4 linked regions of the Homo sapiens genome follow. The protein of the gene in region 3 interacts with the protein of the main gene of each other region in a pairwise test. Each region holds a gene or a part of one and is shown on either strand. Other genes may lie near its edges. The genes, in order: ZBTB14, CREB3L3, CEP19 and ZNF438.

The links.
Region 1: the proteins of CEP19 (region 3) and ZBTB14 interact in binary tests that used the Homo sapiens proteins (3 or more experiments, as listed by UniProt).
Region 2: the proteins of CEP19 (region 3) and CREB3L3 interact in binary tests that used the Homo sapiens proteins (3 or more experiments, as listed by UniProt).
Region 4: the proteins of CEP19 (region 3) and ZNF438 interact in binary tests that used the Homo sapiens proteins (3 or more experiments, as listed by UniProt).

What each region holds. Positions count from the first base shown.
Region 1 is NC_000018.10:5,287,699-5,293,424, reverse strand, and holds the end of ZBTB14 (zinc finger and BTB domain-containing protein 14), read left to right. Parts: intron 1-97; 5' UTR 98-178; coding exon 179-181; intron 182-1,220; coding exon 1,221-2,567; 3' UTR 2,568-4,403; downstream 4,404-5,726. UniProt on the Homo sapiens protein: Transcriptional activator of the dopamine transporter (DAT), binding it's promoter at the consensus sequence 5'-CCTGCACAGTTCACGGA-3'. Binds to 5'-d(GCC)(n)-3' trinucleotide repeats in promoter regions and acts as a repressor of the FMR1 gene.
Region 2 is NC_000019.10:4,148,145-4,156,640, forward strand, and holds the start of CREB3L3 (cyclic AMP-responsive element-binding protein 3-like protein 3), read left to right. Parts: upstream 1-5,486; 5' UTR 5,487-5,603; coding exon 5,604-5,630; intron 5,631-6,754; coding exon 6,755-6,883; intron 6,884-8,496. UniProt on the Homo sapiens protein: Transcription factor that may act during endoplasmic reticulum stress by activating unfolded protein response target genes. Activated in response to cAMP stimulation. In vitro, binds to the cAMP response element (CRE) and box-B element.
Region 3 is NC_000003.12:196,708,233-196,717,710, reverse strand, and holds the start of CEP19 (centrosomal protein of 19 kDa), read left to right. Parts: upstream 1-5,460; 5' UTR 5,461-5,757; coding exon of another isoform or gene 5,758-5,782; intron 5,783-8,983; 5' UTR 8,984-9,053; coding exon 9,054-9,183; intron 9,184-9,478. Other genes in the region: PIGX (GPI alpha-1,4-mannosyltransferase I, stabilizing subunit isoform 1 precursor), read right to left, coding at 790-853, 5,067-5,178. UniProt on the Homo sapiens protein: Required for ciliation. Recruits the RABL2B GTPase to the ciliary base to initiate ciliation.
Region 4 is NC_000010.11:31,027,947-31,036,475, reverse strand, and holds the start of ZNF438 (zinc finger protein 438), read left to right. Parts: upstream 1-4,610; 5' UTR 4,611-4,643; intron 4,644-8,529. UniProt on the Homo sapiens protein: Isoform 1 acts as a transcriptional repressor.

The sequences.
Region 1 (5,726 bases), on a different chromosome or scaffold from region 3:
GGAACAAGAAAGTTTATTTTTAAAAAATCAATTCTTGGTTTAGGATTTGGGATACAGGAAGATCCTACCTCATTCTTGTTTATCCTTTCCTCTGTAGGTCTGGCGTGCTCCTGATCAGAGTTACTCTGATCTGAAGATTTTGGCGTTCAAGGCATTAAGATAATAGCCTGAGTTGTTCATGGTAACTATAACTTTGGATATTAAATCTTGATGAAAATGACTTGGCATTTGCTTTAAAATATATATACCAATTCTGATTGTGCATGAACACTTCTATTTGTCTGGGGGAAAATATTAGCCGAATAAAAGTAAAACAATGTTTTTAAAAAGGAAACATAGAGAATGCTTTAAGATGACCAGTTTTTTAACATGATGACAGAGATCTTTCATGCCAGTTCCAAATTTTTGCTTATAAAATACTCTCAGCACTTATCAAGTACTTACATCTGGTGTTGATGGCACTTTTATCTGGATGCAGGTAGATTGGCATCTAGAGAGAACAAAGCCACTTCCCAAATGTCATCTCATTCTCTTAAGGTCAGATTAAACCTTGACCTTCATTTAGAAGTGGCCCAAAAGTGCTGTGGAAAATCTAGAACACAACACTCAATGGGATATTTTGGCAGTAATGTTCCTCTCTAGTTCTGCAATAGTAATTTGTTCCTTCTGTCAAGGAGGTATAACATAATTATTTTGCTGAATCCTCCATAGAGTAGATGGAATAAGAGTAGGTGCAACAGAGAGGACTAGAGGATTGTTCCCTTGAACCTGTTTCTTAAAACTTGAGTTTGAGTTATTTGATTATCTCTAGTCAGGAAGCACTGGTTTTGCAGCCAGATTGTCTGCATTTAAGTCCCAGCTCTTCACTAAATAGCTATAGAATATTGGGCAGATTTCTAACTTTGTCTCTAAAATAAGGATAGTGATACGTACTCATGAGGTTACCTGAATATTAAATTAATTAAAACATGTAAAGCACATAGAACAATGCCTGGGATATAACTAGGCAAATACTTAGTAAATTGAAGATGAACAGGAGTAACAATATGGAGATCCTTGAGTTGGGATCAGTCTTTTCTACCCATATTCAAAGACCACTCTTAACATTGACTTTCTGAAATTGTTAGGTTCCATAGATTGACCAGGAAATGAAAATGTGACTGTGTTCTCTATATGGAAAAGTACTATTTATAATTACTAAACTTTTTTTTTTTTTGTAGGAGTTTTTCATCAGTATGTCTGAAACCATTAAATATAATGACGATGATCATAAAACTCTGTTTCTGAAAACACTAAATGAACAACGCCTGGAAGGAGAATTTTGTGATATTGCTATTGTGGTTGAGGATGTGAAATTCAGAGCACACAGATGTGTTCTTGCTGCCTGCAGCACTTACTTTAAAAAGCTTTTCAAGAAGCTTGAGGTTGATAGTTCTTCGGTCATAGAAATAGATTTTCTTCGTTCTGATATATTTGAAGAGGTCCTGAACTACATGTACACAGCAAAGATTTCCGTGAAAAAAGAAGATGTTAACTTAATGATGTCATCGGGTCAGATTCTTGGTATCCGATTTTTGGATAAACTGTGTTCTCAGAAGCGTGATGTGTCCAGTCCCGATGAAAACAATGGTCAGTCCAAAAGTAAGTATTGCCTTAAAATAAATCGCCCCATTGGAGATGCTGCTGACACCCAGGATGATGATGTAGAGGAAATCGGGGATCAGGATGACAGTCCTTCTGATGACACAGTAGAAGGCACACCCCCGAGTCAGGAGGACGGCAAGTCGCCCACCACAACGCTCAGGGTTCAGGAAGCGATCCTGAAAGAGCTGGGGAGTGAGGAAGTTCGGAAGGTCAATTGCTACGGCCAGGAAGTAGAATCCATGGAGACCCCAGAATCAAAAGACTTGGGGTCCCAGACCCCTCAAGCCTTAACATTTAATGATGGGATGAGTGAAGTGAAAGATGAACAGACACCAGGCTGGACAACAGCCGCCAGTGACATGAAGTTTGAGTATTTGCTTTATGGTCACCATCGGGAGCAGATTGCCTGCCAGGCGTGTGGGAAGACGTTTTCTGATGAAGGCAGATTGAGGAAGCATGAGAAACTCCACACGGCGGACAGGCCATTTGTTTGTGAAATGTGCACAAAAGGTTTCACCACACAGGCCCACCTGAAAGAACACCTAAAAATCCACACAGGATATAAGCCCTATAGCTGTGAGGTGTGTGGAAAATCATTTATCCGTGCCCCAGACTTAAAGAAGCATGAGAGAGTTCACAGTAATGAAAGACCGTTTGCGTGCCACATGTGTGACAAAGCCTTCAAACACAAGTCTCACCTCAAGGATCATGAAAGAAGACACAGAGGGGAAAAGCCTTTTGTGTGTGGCTCCTGCACCAAGGCATTTGCCAAGGCATCTGATCTGAAAAGGCACGAGAACAATATGCACAGTGAAAGGAAGCAGGTTACCCCCAGTGCCATCCAGAGCGAGACAGAACAGTTGCAGGCGGCAGCGATGGCTGCGGAAGCAGAACAGCAGCTGGAGACGATAGCCTGTAGCTAGAGGCGGTGGGACAGGGACACTTTGCCTGGAAAGTGGAGACTGAGATGACGTGGATCATAATGAGTGAATGCCAGTTACAATATTTTTGTGGAAACGTATGGAACATTGTACTCACTGGACTTAAGGCAGTGCTTGGTTAGCTATTTTTAAGACTTTTCAAGGAAATGGTGTTCCTCAGTTCTGACCAAACCGTTTCACTGTCTTGTCTGGTGTCTAGTATTAATGTTGCCCAGTAAGCACCTCTCTCCCTTTTTTTTTTTTATTATTTTAATTTGAGAACTCCTGTGTCCAGTTTAGAAGTGAGAGACTTCCATTTTTAGTTCCTTTACACTCACCACCCTAGCAAGTGCCCTGCACAGAGTAATAAGTAAATTGATTTCCTAATCACAATTCTATGTGACTTATGGTCAAAAGAGCAGTTTTAATAACTTTAAAAGTACTTCAGATAGACGCAGAAAATTGGTGAGTGGTTGACCAAGAACACTGCACAAATATAAAAAAAGTTCTGGAAATGCAGAATGGCGTTAGATTTATATTTGGTTTGTTAATTTTATATCACTGTTTTTCACTGTTTTTGTGGACAAATAATGGTTGCTTTGCTGAAGTGTTCTTCCTCAATCTTGATTGCCCTGTACCTACCCAAAAGCTGTAGTCACACATCCTAAAGGCCAAGCAAACCCACCGGGATGGTGGGGGGTCTTGGAGCCAAGCTCTTAGGTTCCTCTTATTTGGGGCAGTACCAGTCCATACCAGCTGCGATTTGTGAGTGGACCTGTGGTAAGAAGAATAGAAAAGGCTCTCAGAGATAAGGTTTTTTACATGTGTAACAATCCCAAGATTTCCTAGATTAAAATCTTAATTGATTTTGAAATTGGATTTTTATTTAGAATCAAAATTAGGACAAGAACAGATAACTTCTTCAGATACATTTGTGTAACTTTACAGAATGTCATCAAGCTTTGGGGCTCTGTGGGGCACATGATTTATCCATAAAGGAGATGCAGTATGCTTACTTAAATTAATAAATTTAAAATCTTTTAAGTGTGTAAATAGTAGTGTTGGTCTTACGTATTTCAAGTAAAAAGTAGACAGCTGCACTTTTTTTGCACATTGGATTAAAATAACTTCCATCAGCAACAAACATCAGACTGTTTTTAACAAATATTAAAGATTGTCAGACCAAATGTTTATGTTTTCGAAATATATTTCATCACTGGTTACAGTTTTAAATAGAAGTTGATTGCCTTTTCATAGCCGTAAATGAGAATTATAAACTCTATTCCAGTTTTGGTATACTAAATGTTCTTTTAACCATCTTTAGGAATATATTGAAATGCCAACAATAGTTTGAATTGTGTTCTGTAAAAAAGTATTAGTCAATTATTTTTCAAAATGTAGAATTGTAGAAAATGTCAATTTTTCAAACTCATTTTTCATTGCTAGGATTTCTTTTAAAAAAATTAAAGTAATTTCACTTCATAGCTTGTTGCATTAACACCTGTAATTCTATTGTGAAAGAAATTTGATTTTTTAATTGGTGTGTGTTATGCCCAAGATGTTAGGATGAAGATGCTACCTTTTTAAAAATTTTAGTTATTGGTAAAATGTTTAATTTTACTTAAAATTAATTTCTTTTCTTGAAAGTTGTTTATTCTGTTCTAAAAGTAGTCCTGTCACTGTGTTTTTATGCTACTTATAGAAGGGGAACTGATTGCCGTTCCTAGGCTGTTTTAACCAAAGCAAAGGAAAAATAATTTTAACATCTTGTCAATAGCTACTTCAACAAACCATATTTTGGGACTTCATTTTTTGTATATAAAAGAAAATATACTTCTATCATTCCTCTTTTCATTTTTTCATAGCAACCTTCCACATACCTAGATTTCTACCAAAATGTATTTTGTATGCTAGCTTCATCCTGGCTTTACAGAGTTGAAGTTAAACATGTGATATTAACCTCCTTTGAAACCACATAGTCATGGTGGTAACCCCCAAAAAGAAAGGTTAATTTTCAGCAGTCTATGTGATGCAAATATTTATCATTTAGCCTATTTTGCATGAGAAATGTATTTGTGTTATTTCTGCCACTGGTACTGGGTTTACACGTGTGTTAGGGCACCTGTTTCCTTTATATATTTTTGGTGGCAGCAGAATCCTATCATGGCAGCTCTCCTGTCTGCTGGGTCCTGGTCAGTAACACTGCCTCTCTACACCTGGCTGGATTTGGTAGTCCTCTGCATAGTGGAGCCATCGTGTTAGAGTCTTCAAGTTACCTCCAACACCCTAGGGAGTTAATTCTGAAATGTGGTTACTCTGAATCTGTAATGTAAGAGGAAGGTCAAGGCTAAGTGTCAACATTACTACCTTTTCATTACTTACAAATCATTGACTTTTTTCTGTTTTTACAGAGAATGCTACAAACTTGATGTTAGCTTTTGTGCTTAATTTGCATTGTATTGGCACTGATTGAGGAAGAGAAATTTAGGAAGTTTAAATGTAAAGTAATTTGCCGGCCATTAACTTGATCACTAATTTAGAATTGTTAGAAAATACAGAGGTCGCCATCAAGTGAGGTTGACACTAACAAATTCACCCTATTTTGTTAGGAAAAAAAAGACAAGATGAGGGAAAATGATGCAAATTTATGTAGTTTCCAACTTAATGGGTTATTTTGTGTAGTTATCTGTAAGTCATTTGGAAGGTGGGATTCATTGTCACATAGTAATGCTATTAGTGGTGTTTTGTTCTCAGGATTAGCAAGCCTTAGGGTGCAATTGTAGTAGAGCTGGCACATAGTAAGGATTGTGGTGCAGGGTTGAGTCCTAGGCGGAGGCAGAGAACTGTTACAGCAAAGAGAACGGAAAGCTCTCACTCCCTTTGAAGTCTGTCTCCATTTTTGCTTACCCTCTTGTAACTGGAGCTCTTTCCCCCTGGGAACTATTTATAATAGGGTTAATCCTGCATCTACTTAAGGTATGTAAAGATAGCATGTTGCCTACTTGTGTTGAGCATCATATGCGAGGCACTGGGCTGGACCCTGGAGATGCAAAGGCAGAAGCAGTTTGGTCCCTGGCTGTTAGAGTGAGTGTGCCCCTTCCCAGTCTGGTCTTACATGTTCTTTTTGAAAATGTTTTTCCATCACCTGTTATCCATGATTCC
Region 2 (8,496 bases), on a different chromosome or scaffold from region 3:
CACTCCAGCCTGAGCGACAGAGTGAAACCTTGTATCAAAACAAACAAACAAACAAACAAACAAACAATGATGTGTTAGCAATAAAGTGACAGAGAGTCTACAGAGGGAACATGTACTTAAACACATTGCTGAAAATGACTGCAGGAATTTTACTTTAGATTCCAAGTTATTGTCCCTTTGAGATACGTAGTCGTGTTCAGTGGATAAACTGCTATGAGGTCAATGGCAGTGAAAAGTCCTTCTGTCCCCACAAGAGCTTCTTTTTCTTCTTCTTCTTCTTCTTTTTTTTTTTTTTTTTGACAGAAGCTTTCTCTGTGGCCCAGGCTGGAATTTAGTGGCGTGATCTCGGCTCACTGCAACCTCTGCCTCCCAAGTTCGAGTGATTCTCCAGCCTCAGCCTCCTGAGTAGCTGGCATTACAGGCGAGTGCCACCACGCCCAGCTAATTCTTGTATTTTTTAGTAGTGACAGGGTTTCGCCATGTTGGGCAGGCTGGTCTCAAACTCCTGACCTCAGGTGATCCGCCCACCTCGGCCTCCCAGAGTGCTGGGATGACAGGCGTGAGCTACCATGCGGGCCAAGTGCTTATTCTTATCCTCCCTGTTAACAGATACCTGAAATCCCTTCATTGAGGTGTACAAAAGGCTTCTAAAGTTCATAATAATAAGTATTGTTATTTTTGAGAAAAAGTCTCGCCCTGTGGCCCAGGCTGGTGCAGTGGTGCAGTCACAGCTCATGGTAGCCTCAAACTCCCAGGCTCAAGCGATCCTCCTGCCTCAGCCTCCCAAGTAGCTGGGACTACAGGTGTGCACCACCATGCTTGGCTAATTTTTTTTTTTTTTTGAGACGGAGTCTTGCTCTGTCGCCCAGGCTGGAGTGCAGTGGCGCGATCTCAGCTCACTGCAAGCTCGGCCTCCTGGGTTCACGCCATTCTCCTGTCTCAGCCTCCCGAGTAGCTGGGACTACAGGTGCCCACCGCCATGCCCAGCTAATTTTTTGTATTTTTAGTAGAGACGGGGTTTCACCGTGTTAGCCAGGATGGTCTCGATCTCCTGACCTCGCGATCCGCCCGCCTTGGCCTCTCAAAGTGCTGGGATTACAGGCGTGAGCCACCATGCCCGGCCCTTTTCTTTTTGATAGAGGGTCTTGCTCTGTCACCCAGGCTGGGGTGCAGTGGCATGATCTCGGCTCACTGCAGTCTCCACCTCCTGGGTTCAAGTGATCCTCCTGCCTCAGCCTCCCGAGTAGCTGGGATTACATGTGCCCGCCACCACATCTGGCTAATTTTTGTATTTTTAGTAGAGACGCGGTTTCACCATGTTGGCCATGCTGCCTGGCTAATTTTTTAAACTTTTTTGTAGTTATGAGGTCTTGCTCTATTGCCCAGGCTGATCGGGAACTCCAGGGCTTGAGCAATCTTCCCGCCTCAGCCTCCCAAAGGGCTTGGATTACCGGCATGAGCCACGGTGCCCGGCTCCAGCAGGTTTTGATAAGAGAAGGGGGAGTGATCTCTCTCGAGGGCACTAGAACTCCCAAGAGTGATAAACGGGGTGAGGAGAGGCAGAGAGGAGTCCAGAAGTCAAACATCACCTACTTGATCCACCCACTGTGATGGCCCTGGAAAAAAGCCTCCACGGCAAATGCTGAATAAATATTATGACTGGGATCACTAAAGCCAAGCCAAGGCAAACAACCCCTCTAAAATCCAACACAGAGCAGATAAAAGGAGATCAGAAAAATGTAGAGGTCAAGGGCGAGATAATTCTAGTAGCACCCAGACAGGGACAGGTACCGTTATCGGGGTCTCTTCTTGGGCCCCGTGGAGCTTGGGGACCCGGATCCTTCTATGGGGTGGGGCCATCCTGGGCACTGGAGGTTGCTGAGCAGTGTCCCTGGCCTCCACCCACCCCGCGCCAGGGCCACCCCCCTTTGTTGTAACAACCACAGATGTCCTCAGACATCACCCAGTGTCCTCGGGGGAGTGTAAAATCACCCTGGGTGAGCTCCCCTGGGTTAGGGGATTCCATGGACCCCCAAGAGACTGTATCCCGTGATGCTCTGCCCTGCTGAGGTCCCAGGAGGCTGCACACATTGAAATCCATGCCCTGAATGGGGAAGGAGGGAGGAGGTGAATCCCAGGATCTGGGGTTCCCCTGGTTTATACCGTCTGCCCTGTTGGGAGTTTATTCTGGTGTCTGGTGTGAGCAGGGAACCCACTCAATTTTTTCCCAAATAATTAATGCAGTCTTTCTCCCCCAGATCCCGTGGCTGTGGGGCAGGATTGCTTTCTGGGGTGGGGCCGTCCTGGGCACTGTAGGGTGCTGAACGGCATCTCTGGCCTTCACCCATTCTATGCCAGGAGCATCTCGCACTCGTGACAACCACAGATGTCCCAGACATTGCACAGTGAGTGTCCTGAGTTTCCGTCCGGAAGGTTGAGGCTGCAGTGAGTTTTTTTTTTTTTTTTTGAGATGGAGTCTCGCTCTGTCACCCAGGTTGGAGAACAGTGGCACCGATCTCGGCTCACTGCAAGCTCCGCCTCCCAGGTTCACGCCATTCTCCTGCCTCAGCCTCCCGAGTAGCTGGGACTACAGGCGCCCACCGCCACGCCCGGCTAATTTTTTTTTTCGTATCTTTAATGGAGACAGGGTTTCACCGTGTTAGCCAGGATGGTCTCAATCTCCTGACCTCGTGATCCACCCACCTCGGCCTCCCAAAGTGCTGGGATTCCAGGCATGAGCCACTGTGCCCGGCCTGCTGCAATGAGTTTTGATCACAGCACTGCACTCCAGTCTGCCCTAGTGGAGGGCAAGTGCAGTAATGTGAGTTAGTGTTGGATAAAAGAACCATATCGTGTGTGGCATATGGTAGCCCCTTATTGAATTTTGATTTCATGAATACATATGAGTGATCCATTGAAAAATATAAACCAGGCCGGGCGTGGTGGCTCATGCCTGTAATCCCAGCACTTTGTGAGGCCAAGGCGGGTGAATCACTTGAATTCAGGAGTTCAAGACCAGCCTGGCCAACATGGTGAAACCCCATCTCCACCAAAAATACAAAAATTAGCTGGGTGTGGTGGTGGGAGCCTGTAATGCCAGCTACTCAGGAGGCTGAGGCAGGAGAATCGCCTGAACCTGGGAAGTGGAGGTTGCAGTGAGCTGAGATTGTGCTACTGCACTCCAGCCTGGGCGACAGAGCGAGACTCTGTCTTGAGAAAGAAAGAAAGAAAGAGAGAAAGAAAGATAGAGAGAGAAAAGAGAAAAAAAGAGAGAGGAAAGAAGGAAGGAAGGAGGGAGGGAGGGAGGGAGAGAAGGAAGGAAGGAAGGAAGGAAAGGAAGGAAGGAAGGGGAAGGGAACCAGGATGTGAATTTTTTTAGAGCAAGGAGGGCACATAAATTACCCCTCTCAACCTAGCACATGGCACAGTGTCCAGCAAACAGAAAGCTTGATTTAGTCTCCTATTTGCTAAACTTCCAACAGTGCCCTGCTGTTTAGCACAAACCAAACTCCTTGCCACAACACACAGGGCTTTGCACGACCTGCCCCGTCCCCTCCCTGCCTTCCCCTCCTCCCTGCCTTCCCCTCCTCCCTGTCTTCCTCTCCTGCCTGTCTTCCTCTCCTCACTCTGCTCCAGCCACAGGGGTCTCATTGCTGTTCCTCCAATGCGCTAGGCACGGACCTGCCTCAGGGCCTTTGCACAAACTGTGCCTCTGCCTGGGACACCTTTCCCCAGACCTTCCCAGGGCCAGTTCCATCTCATCCTTCAGGACTGCACTGAACATGTCATTTTTTTTTTTTTTGAGACAGAGTCTCACTGTCGCCCAGGTTGGAGTGCAGTGGTGTGATCTCAGCTCACTGCAACCTCCGCCTCCTGGGTTCAAGTGATTCTCCTGCTTCGGCCTCCCGAGTACTGGTATTGCAGGCATGTGCTACCACACCCATCTAATTTTTATATTTTTAGTACAGATGGGGTTTCACCATGTTGGCCAGGTTGGTCTCAAACTCTTGACCTCAGGTGATCCACCCACCTCGGCCTCCCAAAGTGCTGGCATTACAGATGTGAGCCACCACGCTTGGTCTAATATGTCATCTGCTAAAGGGGGACTTTGCCTGGGCACAGTGGCTCATGCCTGTAAATCCAGCACTTTGGGAGGCTGAAGCAGGTGGATCATTTGAGCCCAGGAGTTTGAGACCATACTGGCCAACACAGTAAGACCCCATCTCTATAAAAAAAAAAAAACAAAATTAGCCAGGTGTGGTGGTGCACGCCTGCAGTCCTAGCTACTTGGGAGGCTGAGACGGGAGGATCACTTGAACCCAGGAGTTGGAGGCTGCAGTGAGCTATGATCCTGCCACTGCACTCCAGCCTGGGCAATAGAGTGAGACCCTGTCCTCCACCAACACCAAAAAAAAAAACAAAAAAACAAAACAGGGCTCCTCTCTCTTGGTAGGGGGTGGAGGGGAGGTCAGAGACACCTCTCAGCCACCCGGGCTGATTCACAAATATCGAACATTCACTAAAATGTCAATACAGTGACCTAGAGCCAGAGGGGAAGAGGGAGGGTACAAGAGGAGAGTTCCAGGCAGAGGGGCGAGCAGGTGAGTAGGTGCAAAGGCCCTAAGCAGGAACCAGTTTGGCTCCATAAATATTTGTTGACTCAATGAACGATAGAAGATTCTAGAGAGAATTGATTGCACAGAATCACCCATGGGGACTCAGAGGCGGAGTCCAAGCTGGTTTCGGAGGGGGCTGGGGGCCGGAGGTTGGCAGGTGGGGTGAAGGATGGGAGCCGCTAGCTGCTGGCAGGAAAACTGGCTTCAGTGAAGATCTGGTCTGGTCCTCTTGGTTTGTTTCTGTCCAGGGAGTGGACAGGACCCATGTAAGGGCCCTGGGCTATCCCAGAACCCATCTGGGAATTCTGAAGAGAAAAAGTCCTGTAACTGGCCGGGTGCGGTGGCTCACGCCTGTAATCCCCGCACTTTGGGAGACTGAGGGGCCGATCACGAGGTCAGGAGTTCGAGACCAGCCTGGAAAACATGATGAAACCTCGTCTCTACTAAAAATACAAAAGTTAGCCGGGCATGGTGATGGGGACCTGTAGTCCCAGCTACTCGGGAGGCTGAGGCAGGAGAATCACTTGAACCCAAGAGGCAGAGGTTGCAGTGAGCCGAAATGAGATGGCACCACTGCACTCCAGCTTGGGCCACAGAGCGAGACTCCGTCTCAAAAAAGAAAGAAAAAAAGAAAAAGTCCTCATAAGTAGGGCAGAGGTCACGGCAGAGTGGAGGTACCCCAGACTTCGACCTTTGCTCACTGAGGGCTGGAAAACCACAAAACACCCAGATAACGGTCTTCCCTCCCCTGCTCCTGCCTGCCCCAGTGTCACTGGCCCTCAACCCTGTCTCTCCACCCTGTCCACCAATCAGCACCTGGAGGTGGGCTGGGAGCTGCCTGTGACCGCTTCAGCATCTTTTGGGAGTGGTGACAGAGCCACAGAGGGCTGTGAGCTTGCCCGGCCCCAGGTAACGCTGGCGGTGGGTGGGCCTCCAGCTTGGAGCAGAGACCCCCCGAGGCATCTGCAGACAGAACTGGATGGACCCATGAATACGGATTTAGCTGCTGGAAAGGTGAGCCCTACTAGGTCCCCAGGGAGAGCGGGAGTCTAGGCTGGGAAAGCCTACCCAAGCTGCCAGAGCTGGAAGGACCCCATCTCCACCCCTATTGTACAGATGGGAAGACTGAGGCCCAGAGAAAGGATGCAATGAGCAAAACTGTGTGCCTTTGCCCCGGGGCTGCCCTTGTCTTTCTTCCAGGTCCCCCTGCCTCCTAGGAGCGGGCACTTGGGGAGGCTGTGAAGGCCTGAGAGGCAAGCGGCATCTCTAGCTAGGGCCTCTCTCCAGCACTTTTTATTTTATTTTATTTTATTTTTATTTTTATTTTTTGAGATGGAGTCTCCCTCTGTCACCCAGGCTAGAGTGCAATGGCACGATCTCAGCTCACTGCAACTTCCACCTCCTGGGTTCAAGAGATCTTCCTGCCTCAGCCTCCCAAGTAGTTGGGATTACAGGTGTGCACCACCACGCCCGGCTAATTTTTGTACTTTTCCTAGAGACAGGGTTTCACCATGTTGGCTAGGCTGGTCTCAAACTCCTGACTTCAGGTGAGCTGCCCGCCTCGGCTTCCCAGAGTGCTGGGATTACAGATGTGAGCCACCGTGCCTGCCATACTTTTTTGTTTTTTGAAACAAGGTCTTGCTCTGTGACCCAGGGTGGAGTGCAGTGGGGTGGCCATAGCTCACTGCAGCCTCAACCTCCTGGGTTCAAGGGATCCTCCTACCTCAGCCTCCCCAGTAGCTGGGACGACAAGTGTGTGCCACCGCAGCCAGCTAATTTTTTTAAATTATTTGCAGTAGGGATAGGGGTCTCTATGTTGCGCAGGCTGGTCTTGAACTCCTGGGCTCAAGTGATCCTCCTGCCCCGGCCTCCCAAAGTGCTGAGATTACAGGCATGAGCCACCACATCCAGCCTCTCCAGCACTTTAAGAGAAATTGGCTCTCACACTGTGGAATTCTCTCTATCAGCCTCAAAGTCCAGATTTGGAAAGGGAGTCTCAGCGAGGGGCAGCAGCTGGCCCAACCCGGAGGCAGAGCGGCAACTGAACTCTAGCCGGAAAGAGCCAGGGTTATGTGCACATGGGAGGTGGGGAGGACAGGGGCTGTATGTGACCCTCACATCTGTTCCTCGCGCCCCAGATGGCTTCTGCTGCCTGCTCCATGGACCCCATCGACAGCTTTGAGCTCCTGGATCTCCTGTTTGACCGGCAGGACGGCATCCTGAGACACGTGGAGCTGGGCGAGGGCTGGGGTCACGTCAAGGACCAGGTGAGGAGTCCACTGCAGTTGCCCCGGGACCACAGAGCTCCAGGCGGGCCAACTGAGGCCCCACGAAGGTGCTAGACCCGCCAGAGCCCAGCCAGAGCTCTGCTCAGCTCTACGATGCACTAATGGGTCACGGTGCTTGATTTTAGCCAAGCACATCATTTAGCGGGTAGCATCAGCTCCTTCTTACAGGTGGGGAATGGAGGCCCAGAGCAGGGTGGAAACTCATCCAAAGTCACACAGCAATTTGGAGTTAGGTTCAAACTCAAACTTGGGGCATCTCCCTGGCTAGGTTCGGTTCTCTTCTCCTTCCTCTCCTTCCTTTCTCTCTTTCTTCTTCTTTTTTTTTTTTTTGAAGGAGTCTCGCTCTGTTGCCCAGGCTGGAGTGCAGTGGTGCCATCTCGGCTCACTGCAACCTCTGCCTCCCGGGTTCAAGCGATTCTCTTGCCTCAGCCTCCCAAGTAGCTGGGATTACAGGCGCCCGCCACTGCACCTGGCTAATTTTTGTATTTTTAGTAGAGATGGGTTTCACTATCCTGGCCAGGCTGGTCTTGAACTCCTGACCTTGTGATCCACCCACCTCAGCCTCCCAAAGTGCTGAGATTACAGGCGTGTGCCACCGCGCCCGGCCCACTTTCTTTTTTTTCTTTCTTTTCTCTCTCTTTTTCTCTTTCCTTCCTTCCTTCCTTCCTTTTTTCCTTCCTTTCTCCCTCTTTCTTTTACTCTCTTTTTTTTTTTTTGAGATAGAGTTTCACTCTTGTCACCCAGGCTGGAGCGCAATGGCGCGATCTTGGCTCACTGCAACCTCCGCATCCCAGGTTCAAGTGATTCTCCTACCTCAACTTCCCGAGTAGCTGGGATTACAGGCAGCCGCCACCACGCTCGGCTAATTTCTTGTGTTTTTAGTAGAGATGGGGTTTCACCATGTTGGCCAGGCTGGTCTTGAACTTCTGACCTCGGGTGATCCACCTGCCTTGGCCTCCCAAAGTGCTGGGATTATAGGCGTGAGCCACCACACCCGGCCCTTTTTTCTCTTTCTTTCTCTCTCTCTCTCGTTTCTCTCTCTCTCTCTCTCTCTCTCTCTCTCTCTCTCTCCCCCCCTCTCTCTCTGTCTCTCTCTCTCTCCCCCTCCCTCCCTTCCTCCCTTCCTCCCTTCCTTCCTCTCTCTCTCTCTTTCTTAGACAGAGTTTCGCTGTTGTTTTGCCCAGGCTGGAGTGCAATGGTGTGATCTTGGCATACCGCAACCCCCACCTCCCAGGTTCAAGTGATTCTCCTGCCTCAGCTTCCCGAGTAGCTGAGATTACAGGCATGTGCCACCATGCCTGGCTAATTTTGAATTTTTAGTAGAGACGGGGTTTCTCCCTGTTGGTCAGGCTGGTCTCAAACTCCCGACCTCAGGTGATCTGCCCGCCTTGGCCTCCCAAAGTGCTGGGATTACAGGCCTGAGCCACCGTGCCTGGCTCTTTTGTTTTTCTTTTTTTCTTTTTTTTTTTTTTTTGAGATGGAGTCTTGCTCTGTTGCCTAGGGTGGAGTGCGGTGGCGTGATCTCGGCTCACTGCAGCCTCCGTCTTACGGGTTCAGAATCTCCTTCCTCAGACTCCCGAGTAGCTGGGACT
Region 3 (9,478 bases):
AATTTCTACCAAATTATTTAAATTGTTTGAGCTCTACCTCCCTCATCTGAAAAATAAGAAAAAATCATCTATCTCATGCCACTGTGAAGATTAAATGGAATATTGTATATATAGGCACTAGTTGTATATATATAACAACCTCTGTATATGAGAGGGTGTGTGTAGGTTCTATACAAGTACTATGCCATTTGATATAGGGAACTTGAGCATCTGAGGACTTTGGTGTCCTCAGGGGAGGTCCAGGAGGAACCAATCCCCTCAGATACCAAGGGACAACTGTACGTGGTAAACAATACATACTTGTTTTCTTCTTTGCTCCACTCAGTTAATCATTATTTCAAAGTGTGAACCACATATGCCATCACTGAGTAACTTTGAGGAAGCAAGTGATTTTTCTTTTTTCTTTTTTTGAGACAGAGTCTCACTCTGTTGCCCAGGCTGGAGTGCAGTGGCATGATCTCGGCTCACCACAATCTCCACCTCCCGGGTTCAAGTGATTCTCCTGCCTCAGCCTCTGAAGTAGCTGGGACTATAGGTGTGTGTACCATCATGCCCAACTAATTTTTGTATTTTTAGTAGAGACAGCGTTTCACTATGTTGGCCAGGCTGGTATCAAACTCCTGACCTTGTGATCCGCCTGCCTCGGCCTCCCAAAGTGTTGGGATTACAGATGAGAGCCACCGCATCTGGCCTGATTTTTCAATTTATACAAATTTCAACCATCAATTTTTTGCTCTCAATTATATGACACATTATTTTAATAGAAATAGAAATCAACAGGCAACTTACCTGTGGAAACCATCTTTCAAAACTTCTTGCCTCAAAATAATTTCAGAACACATGGCCCTTATGCCTATAAGAACCAAACGATTTTTTTTTAAAAACAAAAGCACTGAATAAAATAATATTTAAATAATTATAAAAGAGTTATTTTAGTAGGCTTTACTTGCCTAGAAAATCTAACCAACCTAAAAACAAAACCTTTTAAAATTTAAGCAATTTGAAATATATATATAAATCTACTTCCAATATAGCACTGTGGTTAAGAACAGTGACTCTGGAGTTAGATTGCCTGATTTCAAATCCCAGTCTGTAACTTAACAGCTGTGTTAACTTTGGGCAAGATAGTTTATCTCTCTACTAGCTGTCGTAAGAATTTAATGTAAGTAGAAGCACTTAGAACAGTAGTAAGAATACATATTAAGTGTTCTATGTAAGTGTTTTTTATTAATATTACTTTATTCAGGTGATCCCAAGATACCAAAAAGGAACAGGATGGCTAAAGAGCCAGGAAATCTCCATTTTAATCCTTGTTCACTGAAACTGTGTATCAGATAGATACATACTGGCAACTTCTATATTCTAACATCCATGCCTACAAAACCAGGAAAATGGTACATTTATGCCTTGTGGAGATGCTGGAAGGTTTAAAAAAAAAACAAAAAGCAAAGCTGGAGGCACGTAAAGGTTCAACGGGTTCCACTGTAAACTTAGAATAAGCACAAATCTCAGTATACTGACTTCATCCAGATTCCAGACACTCAAGCTGTTACTCTGAGCCAGGTGTGCCAGCTCGCACTTGAGGTGGGAGGATTGCTTGAACCCAGGGGATGGGGGCTTCAGTGAGCTATGATTATACCACTGCACTCAAGCCTGGGTGACAGAGAGAGACCTTGTCTCTAAACACAAAAAAAGAAAACTATTACTCAATGTAAGCATCTTAAAACTGAAAATTCAGTTACTATTGACCAGCAACTCTGCCAGGCATTTGCTATGGAACTTTGTCCCATTTCAAAAGCTGTAAATCTGTGGGAAGAACATTTAAAAAACACACACAAGCCTGGACAACATAGCAAGACTCCATCTCCATTAAGAAAAATACAAAAATTAGCTACTTAGGAGGCTGAGGTGGGAGCATGGCTTGAGGCCAGGAGGCAGAGGGAGGCTGCAGTGAGCAGAGACTGCACCACTGCACTCCAGCCTGGGTGACAAAGCCAGACCTTGTCTCAAAACAAACAAACAAACCCCAAACACATACAGAAAACTATATATTATTTACATAATCCTGTTATTATCATTGAATATTGCTGAATCCATTAGATGTATTTCTGAAAAGATGCATTAAGAAAAATGATGTGAAGGTGAAACTATTTGAAGGAATGAAAAAAGAATAGAAAAAAATAACTGGTTAAATAATATCTAACATGCTAGATCCTCTACTTGGTGCTTTCATATGTGTTTTAACTTTCACGATCTATAGCAAAATAAGCAAAATCACTGCCATTTGTTTGCAGGAGGAAACTTGAACTTCTAAAGCATTAGTAAATGGCCCTGGGTCATACAACTAACTACGTGACCGATTAGAAGAAAGGTTTGCCTGATTTTTAAAGCCTAAGATACTTCCACTTTCAACACTAAAATTGAATGAAATTTTAGTGTTACAGCTCTTCGAGAATTTGTCTAGTTACATTTCACTGAAAAATCTCCAGCCCTCAAAAAAGAAATTGTATTTGCTTTGGAGAAGCATATGATCTTTTCCTGAATAAACAAATCCCCAAATTCCATATGTATCTTGTACCAATCCAGATTTTTATTTGTTCTTTTTTTATTTTTATTTATTTATTTATTTATTTTTTGAGACGGAGTCTCACTCTGTTGCCAGGCTGCACTGCAGTTGCACGATCTTGGCTCACTGCAACCTCTGCCTCCCAGGTTCAAGCAATTCTCCTGCCTCAGCCTCCAGAGTAGCTGGGACTACAGGCACGCGCCACTACGCCCGGCTAATTCTTGTATTTTTAGTAGAGATGGAGTTTCACCACGTTGGCCAGGCTGGTCTCGATCTCCTGACCTGGTGATCTGCCCACCCTGGCCTTCCAAAATGCTGGGATTACAGGCATGGGCCACAGCGCCCAGCCGAGCAAGGCTCTGCCTCTTAAAAAAAAGAACAAATAGCCTGGGTGCAGTGACTCATGCCTGTAATCCCAGCACTTTGGGAGGGGGAGGCAGGCAGATCACAAGGTCAACAGTTTAAGACCAACCTGGCCAACATGGTGAAACCCCGTCTTTACTAAAATACAAAAAATTAGCCGGGCGTCGTGGTGTGCACCTGTAGTTCCCGCTACTTGGGAGGCTGAGGCAGGAGAATCGCTTGAACCTGGGAGGTGAAGGTTGCAATAAGCCGAGATTGCGCCACTGCACTAGCCTGGCAAGAGAGCAAGACTCCGTCTCAAAAAAAAAAAAAAAAAAAGAGACAGGGCCTTACTCTGTCACACAAGCTGGAATGCAGTGGCATGATCACAGCTCACTGCAGCCTTGAACTTCTGAGCTCAAGCAATCCTCCCACATCGGCCTCCCAAGTAGCTAGGATTATAGGCCCACGCCACCACACCTGGCTACTTTTAAATTTTTTTGCAGAGACAGGGTCTTGCTATGTTTTCCAGGCTGGTCTTGAACTCTTGGCCTCAAGCAATCCTTCCACCTCAGCCTCCCAATGTGTTAGAATTTCAGGTGTGAGCCACTGTGCCCAGCACAAATCCAGATCTTTCTTCATCCTGTTTAATTTTAATGGGGGTAGGGTGGGAAGTGAGGACTGCTATCCAACTATAAATTAAATTAGAAGAAAAATTATGAACAGGCTTAAATTCTACTGGTATGTACACCAGACAGCAGTTGATCATTGGGACCGGAGAAAGGCTAATTTACAAATAGTACAGCAAATACTAGAATGTCATGATTTTAAAGGCAAAAGTACCATTTTTAAAACGAATTTGTTGAATGTGAATTTACCTTCAACATTTTTCCTCTTAACTATTACTTTGGTAGTGGTGAACTGGCTCTGGAAATTGACTTCTTTTTCCTTTTTTTTTTTTTTTTTGAGACAGAGTCTCCCTCTGTCACCCAGGCTGGAGTGCAATGGCGCGATCTCGGCTCACTGCAACCTCCGCCTCCCTAGTTCAAGCGATTCTCCTGCCTTAGCCCCCTGAGTAGCTGGGACTACAGGGGCACGCCATCACGCCCCGCTAATTTTGACCCCTTTTCAATTATAAAATGCTAACGTTGGAAGCCTCTACAGATTACCAAATCCAACTGTTTAAAAATTCTTCTGGCCGAGCATGGTAGTTCACACCTGTAATCCTGGCACTTTGGGAGGCTGAGGAGGGTGGACCACCTGAGGTCAGGAGTTCAAGACCAGCTTGACCAATACGGCGAAACCCCGTCTCTACTAAAAATACAAAAAATTAGCTGGGCATGGTGGCGGGCACCTGTAATAATCCCAGCTACTTGGGAGGCTGAAGCAGAAGAATTGCTTGAACTTGGGAAAGGCGGAGGTTGCAGTGAGCCGAGATCGCGCCATTGCACTCCAGCCTGGCAACAGAGTGAGACTCCATCTCAAAAAAAAAATCTTCTTGGCCTCATAATCCTTTGTTTAGATAAACTTGAAAACCCAATATGTAAACACACAAGCAGAACTGCACTGATTGACAGATACTAAACGGATCTAAATGATACCAAGGATGACAGAAACATCCTCATTTTACAGATGGAGAAACTTGTAGGGTTTGTGCTTTCCTCCCATCAAACCTTACCCTTTATTGTAATTATTCCCGCACTTGCCCGTCTCAGTAGTACAAGCAGTTTGCCAACTACTACTTGCACGAACAACTAGCAGTTTGCCACGGAGTCCTACATTCAGTTTGGGGATTCTCAGGCCTCACAGGGCGCTAAGGCCTTGCCTGGCCCCTTGGTGATCAGAAGCTTCGTGCAGCTCAAGAGCATCCCAAGACGCTTGACGGCTGACTTTCCTTCTCAGAACTTTAGTAACAGGGCGGCCAGTCCAGCCTGGGAACCGCAGGGCCCGAGCCCGACTCTCCCGGAGACCCGGGATCCGCCGCAGAGCAAAGCGCACGGGAGGGAAGGAGGGCACACGGCTCTAGTGTCTGACCTCCTCCGGCTCGCCCTACTGATCTAGGTCCCGCGCCGGGTCCCCACATCCCCGCAACCCGCCGAGAGGCCCGGGAGCCGGGACCGCTCCCACGCTCTGGCCCCCCAAGCCCCGCCCCCCTTACCGGCGTCAGAGCGCGCGGCGGTGAAGGCCGCGGCGGGCCCGCGCGTGAGCCCGGTCGCCGCCCCGAGGAGCAGCCAGGCGGCCGCCCGAACCGCCGCCACCCGAGCCGCCAGGACGCCGGAAGCCGGACGCCCGAGAGGGGCGCGCGGGGCCAGGTGCGGACGCAGGAAGGGGCCTGGCCGCCCGCAGCTCCTACCGCGCGCTGCCCCAGATTTATCGGCTGGGACCGAGTGCTGGGTGCGCGCGCCTAGCGCCCGCGGTTCCCAGCTGCCTGCAGCCCCGGCCCCCAAGGGTTCCCGCGCGGCGTGGGGCGGTCGTCCCCGCCCAGCTGTTCCTTGCTCCGCCCACCCGGGGGCGGGCGAGGAGCTGCGCACGCGCGGGGACGCGCGCCCGGCCTGTCGCTGTGGAAACCGCTAGGCCAGCGCTCGCCGGGACCTGGAATCCCTGTACGCCGAGGTGGGAGCCGGTGGACCGGTCCCCCAGCCGGCCCCCACCTCCGCTTCCCGGTGTTTGAGGGTTCGGGCCTCCCGCCGGGGAGTTCACCCCTCGGGCTCGTCAGTAGGGCTGTGGCTGTCGCCTCTTCCTGCAGCGCCAGGCTCCGCCCGGTCTCACAGTCGGCTTAGGGGCTTTGCGTGCACTGCGGTTGGGTGGAAAAACCCACTCCTGGTTGTTTAGACGTTGGCCTGCAGACGATGTCATTTCTGTATTCCTCTAAGGGTAAGAAAGCCAGCCTTGCACTAGTGGAGACGTGAGTAGGGAGAGAATCGTCTACTCTTTGGGGACATTCGTACCCTTAGGTGCTGTGGGGCTTCCTAACAAGATTGTGGGCAGTTACTGATCTCTGGGGAGAGGAGTATTCGTGTCCAGGAAGAATAATTGGATAAACGTGCCGTCCTTCTTCCTAAACAGAGTGGAATCTGTAAGCAGGCCAAGAGAGCATCCAGGCGGCTTGGAGTGGAATAGAGGGCTCTAGAGCGGGTGTCTCAAAGAGGAAACAGAGTGTATGTCAAAACATACTATCCAAAACTGAAAATAGCCGGGCAGGTGGCTCACGCCTATAGCCCCAGCACTTTGGGCGAATCACCTGAGGTCAGGAGTTCGAGACCAGCCTGGCCAAGATGGCGAAACCCCGTCTCTACTGAAAATACAAAGATTAGCTGGGCATGGTGGTAGGCACCTGTAATTCCAGCTACTCGGGAGGCTGAGGCACGAGAATCGCTTGAACCCAGGAGGCGGAGGTTGCAGCGAGGGGAGATCACGCCACTGCACTGCAGCCTAGGCGACAGAGGGAGACTCTGTTTCAAAAGAAAAAAAAAAACTGAAAATGGTAGTATAAGCATGTTTCTTAAGAAATGGAGAGAGAAATTTTGGAAGATATGCCTTTTAAAATTCAGTCTGGCTCCCTATGAAGAGGAGTAGGGCCAAGGACGATAGTTTGTTGTTATAAGCCTCATAGAATTATTTTATATTCCAAATACAAACATTACTTTAGCAAAAATTAAAGTTAAATTTTAAAAAGAGTCTAGTAAAAAAAAAACTACATTATTTGAGTACCAACTGCATACATCTTTGACGAGTACAGCCATTGCTTCAGTGTGTGGAGTTTATATGTGCCCCGTAGGTTGTAGTTTACTAACATCAAATTTTAGTTAGGTGAATTGGGAATAGTATTCGTTAAAAAAAAAAAAAAAGCAAGAAAAGAGAAGGAAAAGAAGGAGAAATGGTGTGAGCTCATTGCATCAGATTAGAGGTAGAGCACAGTAATTTTTTAAAGTAGTTTTTTTTTTTTTTTTTTTTTTTTTTAAGAATAGGCGTATCATGCTTTGGAGAGGCTGTTGTGCAGTGGCACCATCTCAACTCACTGCAGCCCCAAACTCCTGGGTTCAGGCGATTCTCCCACCTTGGCCTTTGGTGTGGCTGGGACTACAGGTGCATGCTGCCATGCCTGGCCAATTTTTAAATTTTTTGTAGAGACATGCATGGTCTCGCTGTGTTGCCCAGGCTGGTCTCAAACTCCTGGCCTCAAGGTATCTCCTCTCCTTGGCCTCCCAAAGTGTTGGGATTACAGGCCTGAGCCACCACACCTGCCTCCATCTTTTTGAGATGGAGTCTTGCTCTTGTCACCCATGCTGGAGTGCAGTGGTACCATCTCAGCTCACTGCAACCTCCGCCTCCCAGGTTCAAGTGATTCTCCTGCCTTGGCCTCTCGAGTAGCTGGGATTACAGGCACCTGCCACTATGTCCAGCTAATTTTTGTATTTTTAGTACAGACGTGGTTTTCACCATGTTGGCCAGGCTGGTCTCGAACTCCTGACCTCAAATGATCTGCCCACCTTGACCTCCCAAAGTGCTGGCTGGGGTGAGCCACTGTGCCTGGGCTTATATGTGATTAATTTTCTAAGAGTAAAAATTCTCATGCCCAACAATAAGTGGTGAATAATATGATTATAGTACATCCATAAAATAAAACATTTAGCAGTCATATAAAATGTTACATTGTAGTAAAACATTTGATGACAAAATAATAATATATGTTGTTAAATTTGAACGTCAGGAAATAGCTTGTATGATAAGGTATGTATGAAACATACTATAAACTATATGCCTAGAAAAAAGACTGGACACAATCAAGGGTGATTATTTTCTATAGGTTTCCCCTCTCCTTTGCCCCCAGTATTCTACAATGACGTGTATAATCACTGCTAAGTATTTAATAAAAAGTATGTTCCTAATAGTGATTCTCCAGCAGAACTGAGTTCACGAAGATATCATCACCCTATGCCACTTTACCTCAATGTTTCTTGACATTTACAAATCTTTCTGGGAATGTCACAGTCACATCAAAAGCAGTGCTTAGGGTTAAGTGTATTCTTTGGGCACTGAGGGTGGGGAAAGGAAGAGAGAATAGTAAGTATTCATCTACAAATAGCTGTTTCTTGTAGCTAGAAAATTATCATATAGTGAGACACACAGGCCAAAATAAAAGCCCTGCAGACATTACTGACTATTGTATATGAAGAAGCTGAGATATGTGATGTATATGATGTAGCTGCAGACGTTACTGACGTGTATATGAAGAAGCTGATTCTGCAGCAGGTCTGCTTTTTGATCAGGCTTCTAGACTGTAAATGCTTTCAAAAATGTACAGGGACCATCATGTTAATTCATAGCATTAAACAATGTATGGAATGCCCACTACGTTCCAGGTATTATGCTGAGATATTGTGGTGGAAAATGAATATGCCCCCCACCCTCATGGAGCATATTGACTAGAAGGGAAGATAGATGATTAAATAAATAATGACAAAAAACTCTAGTAAAATAATTGGGAAAGTACAAAGGAGACAGTTCTGGATTGGTGAACCTCTCAGGACAAAATGATTAAGGTTAAAAAACTTACCTTATCATAGTACCTTGATACCGAGGATGCTCGATATGCCCTTTCTTAATTGATAAATAGTAAAGACCCTATAGGTCAGCTATTGGGCTGACTTAGGGGTTCATATTCGATCTTCAGTAAGAGTGCAGTACACTAAGAGGTTCAAACTGGATTGCATCCCCAGATTCACATATGAACAAGTCTATATCCTTGAAAAAACCAGATCTTAGGGATCCAACAGGTTGAAACTAACCCAGGGCCAAGCTGAACTTTCAGGGCAGTTCTCAAAATAACTGAGCTTTGTGGTCGTTCCCGCGCACATACCCCACAATTGGAATGATACAGAGAGGATCAGCATGGCCCCTGCGCAAGGATGACACACAAATTCATGAAGCAGTCCGTATTTTAATTTTAAAAAAAATGAGTTTCACAGGCTGAGCGTGTGTGGCCAGAGCCGGACTAGAACCAGATCTTCTGGGGCAAAGGGGCGAGGGGAATGAATGACATTTATCCAACACCTAGTTGTTTTTTCCCTTTAGCAGGAAGTCATTATGCAACTTACACATATTCATCAGATTTCCTCTGACTTACCCGGACATGTACATGGGAATGATGTGCACTGCCAAGAAATGTGGGATTAGGTTTCAGCCTCCAGCTATTATCTTAATCTATGAGAGTGAAATCAAGGGGAAAATTCGCCAGCGCATTATGCCAGTTCGAAACTTTTCAAAGTTTTCAGGTACCTCATGTCTTATCTTGCCTCCTGTCTTAAATATTCTCTAAATACAGGTTCACATCATGACTCTGTCAGGGACTGGATGTGTGACACTGGATGAATTACTTACTCTCAGTGAGCTTCAGTTTCCTAATCTATAAAAGGGAATTGTAGTGTTTTTTTCCAATCTGATAATTAATAATCCTTTTGGGATTGCTGCCTAGGTTAAATGATATAGCATTATTCAATAATATTAATTCCCTTCTCTCATTCCAAATGTTTTTTATTTGTAGTCTTAATATTTTATTAATACCACTAC
Region 4 (8,529 bases), on a different chromosome or scaffold from region 3:
TCAGGAGACCTCATGTAAATAAGGCTCCAGGTGGCCTGCTCTGATTTCCGAGTTACCAGAGGGATAACATCCTGTTAGGACATTCATCAAGGATAACATTTAGTGAGGCCCAGAGCAGTGACTCATGCCTGTAATCCCAGCACTCTGGGAGGCCCAGGCGAGAGGATTGCTTGAGGCTAGGAGTTCGAGACCAGTCTGGGAAACACAGCCAGATGTCATCTCTATGAAAAGTAAAAATAACCAGATGTGGTTGTGCATGCCTGCAGTCCCAGCTACTCAGGAGGTTGAGGTGGGAGAATCCCTTGAGCCTAGGAGTTCAAGGTTATAGTGAGCTATGGTCTTTCCATTGTACTCCAGCCTGGGCAAGAGCCTGTCTCAAAAATAAATAAGTAATATTTAGTAAGTCTAACCCCATTTGAGGCTTGCAGAAGTTACTGGACTTGCCATAAAGTACCCAGTTAATAACAGAGCTGGCCCTGTTCAGTGCTTTACTATGTTATGCTGCATTGCCATTCAAAATGACTTGTCTCCTAAAGGAATTTTCTCATCAGAATTATTTCTATTGACAGTATCCCCTTTTTAGAAAATAACTAGCATCTTGAGTAAGAAAGCTACCCAGTCTTTGAATTCGAGTTCATCCATCCATTCACCACGCATTCCTCTACACATATTAACTGATAATCTATTTGGGATACTACATGTAGAGGATTCGAGGTTAAGACTCACATTTCCCCTATTCTCACAGAGCTTACAGTCTAGGAGAAGAAGCAATTAAAATAATTTGCAATGCAGAGAGCCAAAGCTGCTTAGGGAAGGCTTCTCAGAGTCAGTTCCTGCAAAGTAGAGACCTAAAGGATTGGGGAGAATTAGCTAAGTAAAATGATGAGGGAAGGGAGGTGATAAAATGAGATGAAATACTGTGCAAACTGTGTAACTGCAGACTTGTAAGACTGTTATTAAACAGACATCCCTCCAGAGCTCTCCAATCTCTGTCCCAGGTCTTCTTCCAGCAAAGTCTCTATCTCTGCTCCTTTGGCAGAATAAGCCCCCTTTTAACCTGTGTAACTCTTGTTTTATAGATGGTTATTTTGTTGTTATTAGTATATTCTTGGGTTTGAGTTGGAGACAAGGGCCTATCTCTAATCAGGAGTGACCTGATTTTTATGTCAATTACCTGGGAAGAGATCATCAAACCAGATCCTGGGACTTAAGAGAGGAATGTAAGGGGATTGCAGAATGGGATTTTGTTTCCCTTGGTCTTGATCCTGAAGGATAAATGATGCATGTTAGTTAGGCAAGGCGTGGTTATAATAGTGTTTTTCAAATTTTTTTTGATTGAAATCCATAGTATGAAATACATTTAACGTTGCAACCCAGAATACACACATGTGGCTGAAAGTTTCCCCTAATTTGTGTTGGGAAAAAAATACCCTTATTACATGTGATACAATCTGATATTTTGTATTTTGGATTCTGATTAGTGTTTTTCTGAGTAGCTACCCTTTAACCGATCACAAAATCAACTTACTGGGTCATGATGACCACCTTAAAAAATCAAATAAAAGCAGTCATGCAAAGATGGGATGGAAAACAGTGAAGAAGATACCCATACACTGTGGTCAGTATTTTAGAGCTAAGTCCATATTTTGGACTTCCTAAGTCCCTCTGTTTCTTGCATAATTTGTGCCTGGTTGTATGAAACTTGAGACAGATTAGTGGTTATGGCTGTGGGTTCTGAAGTATGAAGTCTGGAATCTTGACTGTGTTACTCAGCAGCTGTGTGACATGGGCACTTAACCTACTTACCTTGTGTTTAAAATGGGGATAGTAACAGTTCTTATCTAGTTGCAAGAATTCAAGGAAATAATGCAATGCTTGGCACAGAATCAATACTCAGGAAATATTAGGAATTATATTTCTTTCACTTTTATTTTCCCCATACATTAAGTACTCTGTTTTGTCTTAATTCAGCTTTTCTTAGCTTGCTAAGCAGGACCAAGGGAAGAGATGTGTGTATTGACATAGAGGGCTCTGGAAGCCAGATTGCTATGGGCAGCAGATATCAAAGAGAAAGAATCACAAGGGGGAACTGAAAGCCCAAGGGCCATAGTGGAGGGCCTCAGTGCTTCCAGTGCTAAACCTCCAAGGTCCAGGGTTTTATTTTCTTTAAAAAAGCAGATCCTCTCTTTAATAACAACACTTTTGGCCCTAGCTTCTCACTTCCTGTCTAGGTCAAATTCCAGTTTGTTACAGAAAGTTGACTGAACGTGAGTGGTATTTTCCCACAAATTTCTACTTGACATTCCTTGAGACTGTGATCCTTGCTTGGGTACCTTTACTGTTGGCCATCTTTTGTTCACTGCGTTTACTTTTTTCCTGCATCTAGCAAAACAACGACTTTTTTTTTTGAATACCTGAGATTTCAAGAGAAAGTATACTGAACAATACGATGAGAAGACTATATTCTACAATGCCATCTTTCAGAGGCAAAAGTATCTATAGTAAAAACATTTGATACATTTGGTGTATGCTTCTTACCCATTTCCACTCCAAAAAATAACAGATGACATGTACCTGTGAAACACTCCCATAAGGTATACCTAGAAACTCACTTAAAAAAATTACGATTTTTAGAAATGATATATATAAAACATTTTATAAGCATGTAAACTATTAACAATTTAAAGGTTTCTTAAAATTGTTTTGCAAGGAAAAACATAAATATCACTGTTTTAAAAATATGCAGGACTTTAAAAAATGTTAATTTTTCTATACCTCTGCTCTACAGAAAAACCTTATTGTTACAATTATGGTACAGCCTTTACAAATTTCTTTTACATCATTTGATAATAACTAATATTCAGATAAAATATACAAATATTTTTTCAAATCAGAACATTTAAAAACACTGACGTAGATTTTTCTGGAATAATAAACGTTTTTATTTTTAACCAGCTCAGATCTCGAATTAAAGCCTAATATTCCCATCATCACTCTTTCCTGTAAAAATAAGACAGCACTTTCAATGAGAGTGGAAATAAACCATTGTTTCAGGTTTTACTTACAACTGGAGCTGCCTTGCAAAATCCCTGCCCTGGCCATCTGCCGTGGTTCCAAATAAGTTTGTAAAAGTGAATCTTGCCATTTTCAATACTTCCTCCTTTGGGTCTATTTATTCCGAAGTCTGTTTTTCTCATTCTTTTAATTTTTTTCCCCCCAAGACGGATTTGTCTGAGACACTTTTTTGCCATAACATTTGTTTTTTCTGCTTACGAGAGTGTAAGAATTCCACAAGCCAAATGTTAATATTTTGTTGTCAGTTCTTTAAGCCTTCATTTTTTCCGTCTATCGAGCCCTTTTTTTTAACCAGAACTCATTGCTTCTGAGAGTATAAAAGAGCAAAGAGGCCGGGCGCGGCGGCTCACACCTGTAATCCCAGCACCTTGAGAGGCCGAGGCGGGCGGATCACGAGGTCAAGAGATGGAGACCATCCTGGCCAACATGGTGAAACCCTGTCTCTACTAAAACATAAAAATTAGCCGGCTGTGGTGGCGCGCGCCTGTAATCCCAGCTACTCAGGAGGCTGAGGCAAGAAAATCGTTTGAACCCGGGAGGCAGGGGGTACTGTGAGTTGAGATCGCGCCACTGCACTCCAGCCTGGGAGACAGAGAAACACTCTGTCTCAAAAAAAAAAAAAAAAAAAAGTGGGGAGCAGAGAGCCGGACTTGGACACGGGAAGGTATCGTGACATGAGTGGGTCGGGGGCTGGAAAGTTTGCCCAGGCGAAGAAGTGAACATGTTTATCCGGATCACCGTTTGTTAAATGAACAGCAACCCATAGGTAGCTTCACCGAGCCGAAACGGGAAAGGCGGCAGGCAAGGGAGAAGCTAAAATCTGCAAGAAACGGGCTGGGCTGGAGGCGGCGCCAGGGCAAGAAGGGCAGGTGGGGGCCCGCGGGAGCCGGGAGCCAGGGGCGGGAGCCGGAAGGGCGGGACCCAGGGGCAAGGCCTAAGTGGGCGTGGGAGGGGCATAGTCAAGAGATGGGCGGGGACTGCTCGGGGTCTGGGCGGAGTCTAGCGGGAGCCGCGTCGAGCCGGGGAGGAGCGAGGGACCCTGGGAGAGCTGTCTTTTCAGGGCTGAGGACCCGCCAGCACCTGATGGAGAGCAAATGGCTGTTTCCACACGTGGAGAACTTTTAACGAACACGTGAGGAAGGCGGGCAATGTCTGTGGAAAAACTACCTCACAACCCAGGCGTCTTACTCCAGCCCCCAGGGCGACAGCTTGTTTACAGTATTTCTGAAGGTCTCCGTCCCCTTTTGTCGGCCCCTCCTCCTCCTCTAACCCCGACTTCAGGCTTTGAGTGAGGCTTTGGTAGAGCAGTCGCCGCCGCAGGCGCCCCGGTCGGCGAAGCCCACAGGCATGCGGGCGCAGAGGCCGTCTGCGCCTGCGCGGGGTGTCTGCTACGGGGAGGTGCGTGGAGCTCGAGGGCGTGGAGCTCGGGGGCGTGTCTCCCGCCGCGGCGCCGGGGCGGGGCGAGGGCGGAGCCTGGGGGCCCAGCGGCCCGCGCCCCGTGGCTTGACCTCCCCGACTGCTGGGCCCGTGACGTCACCCCGCTGTGACGCGCACGCTGTAGGAAAACTGTAAGTTTACGAGGATTCCTGCAGCTCCTAGGGCTTGCGGGGCCCGCTGGCAGCTGGCAGTCCCGGCGGTGGTGGTGGCTCTGGGGGCGTCAGTTCCTTGGGGAGTCGCCGATTGTGGCGAAGGGACAGGTGTCTGCTCAGAGTGGCAGCGCGCCCTGCTGGGCGGTAGGGACCTGGGGTGCGGGAGGCGAGGCCGCGCCCCGTGGGGCCGGGCCAGCACCTTTTCCCCTGGGGCGGGGCGCGTCTCCGAGCCTGGGAGCGAGGCCTTAGAAGGGGCGGAAAGTCCAAATGGAGAGTCCCTTTTTTTCTTCCGTGATAAAGGGACTTAGATTCCTTTTCTTCCCCCTCTCAGCCTTGGAGTTTGACATGTTAAGTAGGGGATGGAAGCTTCCTCTCAGAGAATAGGAATCCTATGTCCTGGCCGTTGGGATCCCACAAGTGACCAAGTCATCGTGGACACATTTATAAGATAACCAGTTGCTGCCTCAGTTTTCTTTTTTGTGTAAAAGGGAGGTACAGCAGCCTCTGGCCTCCCTAATGGTTGTTCCCACAGCACTAGGAACACGTGAGATAACACAAGTGTGTAAATTTGCTAGGAGAAAGCTTATACACAGACACTTGGTTATTCTGAGGAATGTGGTAGCCACTGGCTATTTGACCAGGAATCTTGTAGAAGGGGAACTTTTTCACTGTTTTGCCTCCCCCCGACAACCTTCCCTCCATCTGATTCTATACCACACTGGAGCCTGTTGGGTGATCGAACTGTTGTCACTAAACTTGATAGAATGGGGATCCCAAGAAATAACAGGTATCGTTAGCACGGTACTCTTGGCAATTACAATGCCCCCGTTGTCTGGGTTTTGCAGAGGAAGCTTTCAGTGTGCTGGAACTAGCACATTATAGACAACACAGACTCACTGAGTTTTAAGGATTGCTGTATCGATTTGGAATATCCAATCATCGTATCTGACTGCTTGAATATTTTGGTCAAGGGGTACTACATTATCGATTAGTTATTACTAGACTATAATGCCTCTCAAACTCCGGGACTAGTAGTCTTCAGGAACTTTGAAGGGAAGAATACTGTGCACACTTCAGGGTGTATTTATACAGGAGCTCGAGAGTTCACATTTCTGTAAATTCATTTCAGGAGTGTGATATCTTTTCATCCAGGTAGGAAGAGCCTTTGAATCAGAAAGCAGGGCTTCTAATTTTTGTTCTATTCGTTAACTAGCTTCGTGTCCAAGGACAAGTCACGCAAACTTGGAACTTTGTTTTTCTTATCTAAAATGAGAGCCGATGGTTTATCTGTTTGTTGGTTTTTCCAGGATCAAATGAGATCACGAGAGTGCAAATGAAAGGCTAAGTGTGCTATTGTTATTAGGAGATTCGCATTGGTCCCCTAGCCTGGATGAGATGTGAGTCAGAAATCTCTGGAAATAGAGCAGCAAAGAAGACAGCCTCCAACCTAGCAGGGCTCATATTGCAGTGGGAAATAGACAACGAACAATACGTGCATAATGTAATTTCAGGTAGTCATAAGTGCAGTGAAGGGAAGGAAGAAAGGAGGACAGTGGGGGAACAGGGAAGGTTGTTTTTGGTGGGATCTGTCAGGAAAAGCCATTCAAAGGCAGGGACACTTGAAGTGTGAGGGAAAGAGCCTGAGGTAAGAACATTTCAGAGAGGAATAATTAATAGCAATGAACACTTAAAAAAAGTAGAGCTTACCATATGTAAGGCACTATTCTGAACACTAAATTAAATTTTTACAAGTCTTTTGATGTAACCTAGTATCTCCCTTTCATAGATGAGGCAACTGACACACAGAAAGGTTAAGAATTTGCCAAAGTTGCACAGCTAAAACGTGGTAGAGACTATTTGAACGTGGGCAGTCTGACTTCAGAGTCCAGGCTCCAGGTGACTGTATTTTCGGCCTCACAGCAGGAACAGCACAGGACAATGCTCTGAGGTGGTCCAGACACAGTGAGAGTGTTTAGAGCACAGCCGGGAACGGGGAAAGTAGTGGCCAATGATGGTCAAGGGCCAGGCAGGCCGTGGGGTCCCTTGTAGGCTGTGGTGAAGTAAAGATGTTGTTCTAACTGTGATGGAAAACCATTGGAAGGTTTGCATCAAGGGACTGGTGTCTGATTTAAGTTTTATTGTATGGAGAATTAACTGTAGATTAGAGTGGGTCGGATGGAGTGAAAATCGGGAGAAAGCTGCTGTGCCCTGCAGGTGAAATGATGGTGGTTTGGGCTGGGGGAGGTTAGTTGTGGAGATGATGGTAGGCGGTAGAATTGGTGATACGTTTTGAAGGTAGAGCTGACGGGAAACGAGCTGATGTGGAATTTGAAGAAAAGGGAGAAGTGATGATTTTTTAGGTTTAGGCTGGAACAACTAGAAGTATAGTGGTGCTGTTTACTGAGGAAAATTACAAATTTAGTTTTGCACAAGTTCTAAATGCCTGTTAGACATAGTCATAACAACAGTGCTAGTAAAAATAGTATTATGTAAGCGTAAACTGAGTCCCAGGCAGGGTTTTAAGTACTTTAACCTATATTAATTCATTTAATCATCATAAGAATTATATGTGCAAGGAACCATTATTGTCCCCATTTTACAGCACGAGAAAATAGAGGCAAAAAGAGGTTATAAGTGACTTGTCTGAAGTCACCCAGCTGGTGAGTGATGTAGCTAGGATTCAAACCTAAGCATTGTGGCTTTGGAGTCCATGCATTGAATCCCTGTAACCACCTCCGAGTGAACATGTTGAGTATGCATGCCTGTGAATATGGAACTCAGGGGAGTGGTCAGGGTTGGAGATACCCATTTATTTTTCTGAAGAGAAAGCATGCTTTTGTTTTTCATCTAAGCTTTGGTTGTCTGTGGGAGAAAGATTATAGGCAGTGGGACTGTGCTAACTGGTCTTTGATTACGACCTGACTGGGTTCATGCAGCCAGTATCTGGTATTCCCCACTGTAGGTTCCGTAGGGGCAAGGTCTGTCTCTTTGACTTCTCTATCTCTAGTCCCTAATCCAGTGCCTGCTGTGTAGTAGATGTTAGGGATGACTTTATATAATGGGCATTTGGTTAGGTTTTGGAAGTTCAGAGATGAATAAAACAGTTCTTTACCTTAGAGGAGCAGGGTATGAGGAAAAACCTGTGGGAATAAAATTAGAGTAGACTAAATGCATAAATACATGCCGATTAGTTCATTTGGGTTTTCTGCACCCTCCCCTCCCCAGCTTCCATGACTTGTGAGATGGGGCATGAAAAGGGCAAAGGGGCAAAAGAATGCCTAAGCTGTTGCAGGATGAAGTTGAGGCTCCCCAAGAGTCCTTTTCAACAAAAGAATTACTCAAAATCATGCATATTTTACTATATTTGCATTAGCTTTATTTGGCAATGATAGAATTTTTACCAAATGAAATAAATTCTGATATTTGACTGTCCTTTTGAAGTGATGAGTTTTTCCAGTTCTATTACCTCAGTGTTGACAGGGCTCACCAGAGAAATAAGGGAGTTGGCTTGAAATGTTGCAGCTTGCATAATAGAGGGTGATGGAGGGGTTGGGTGAAGTATTCAGGCAGGTTTCCACCGGTTTAAGTGTGTCATGCCAAAGTTCCACCTATTGGAATAAGTTTGAGTTTCTTTGCTGACCATCTCTAACATTGACATGTATTTTTTTTTTGTCATAGAAAGGGGATCTGGTGATATATATTGTAGGTGGAATTGCAGATTACATCTCGTATAGCTGGATCATTGTAGAACATGGAGACTAGAAAAATACAAACAAAAAAAGATGTGTCTTGTTCCCGTAGATCTTTCATGGCATACCATAACCTCAACAGTTGTCACAATTTTGTTACTTCCTAACATGAGTAT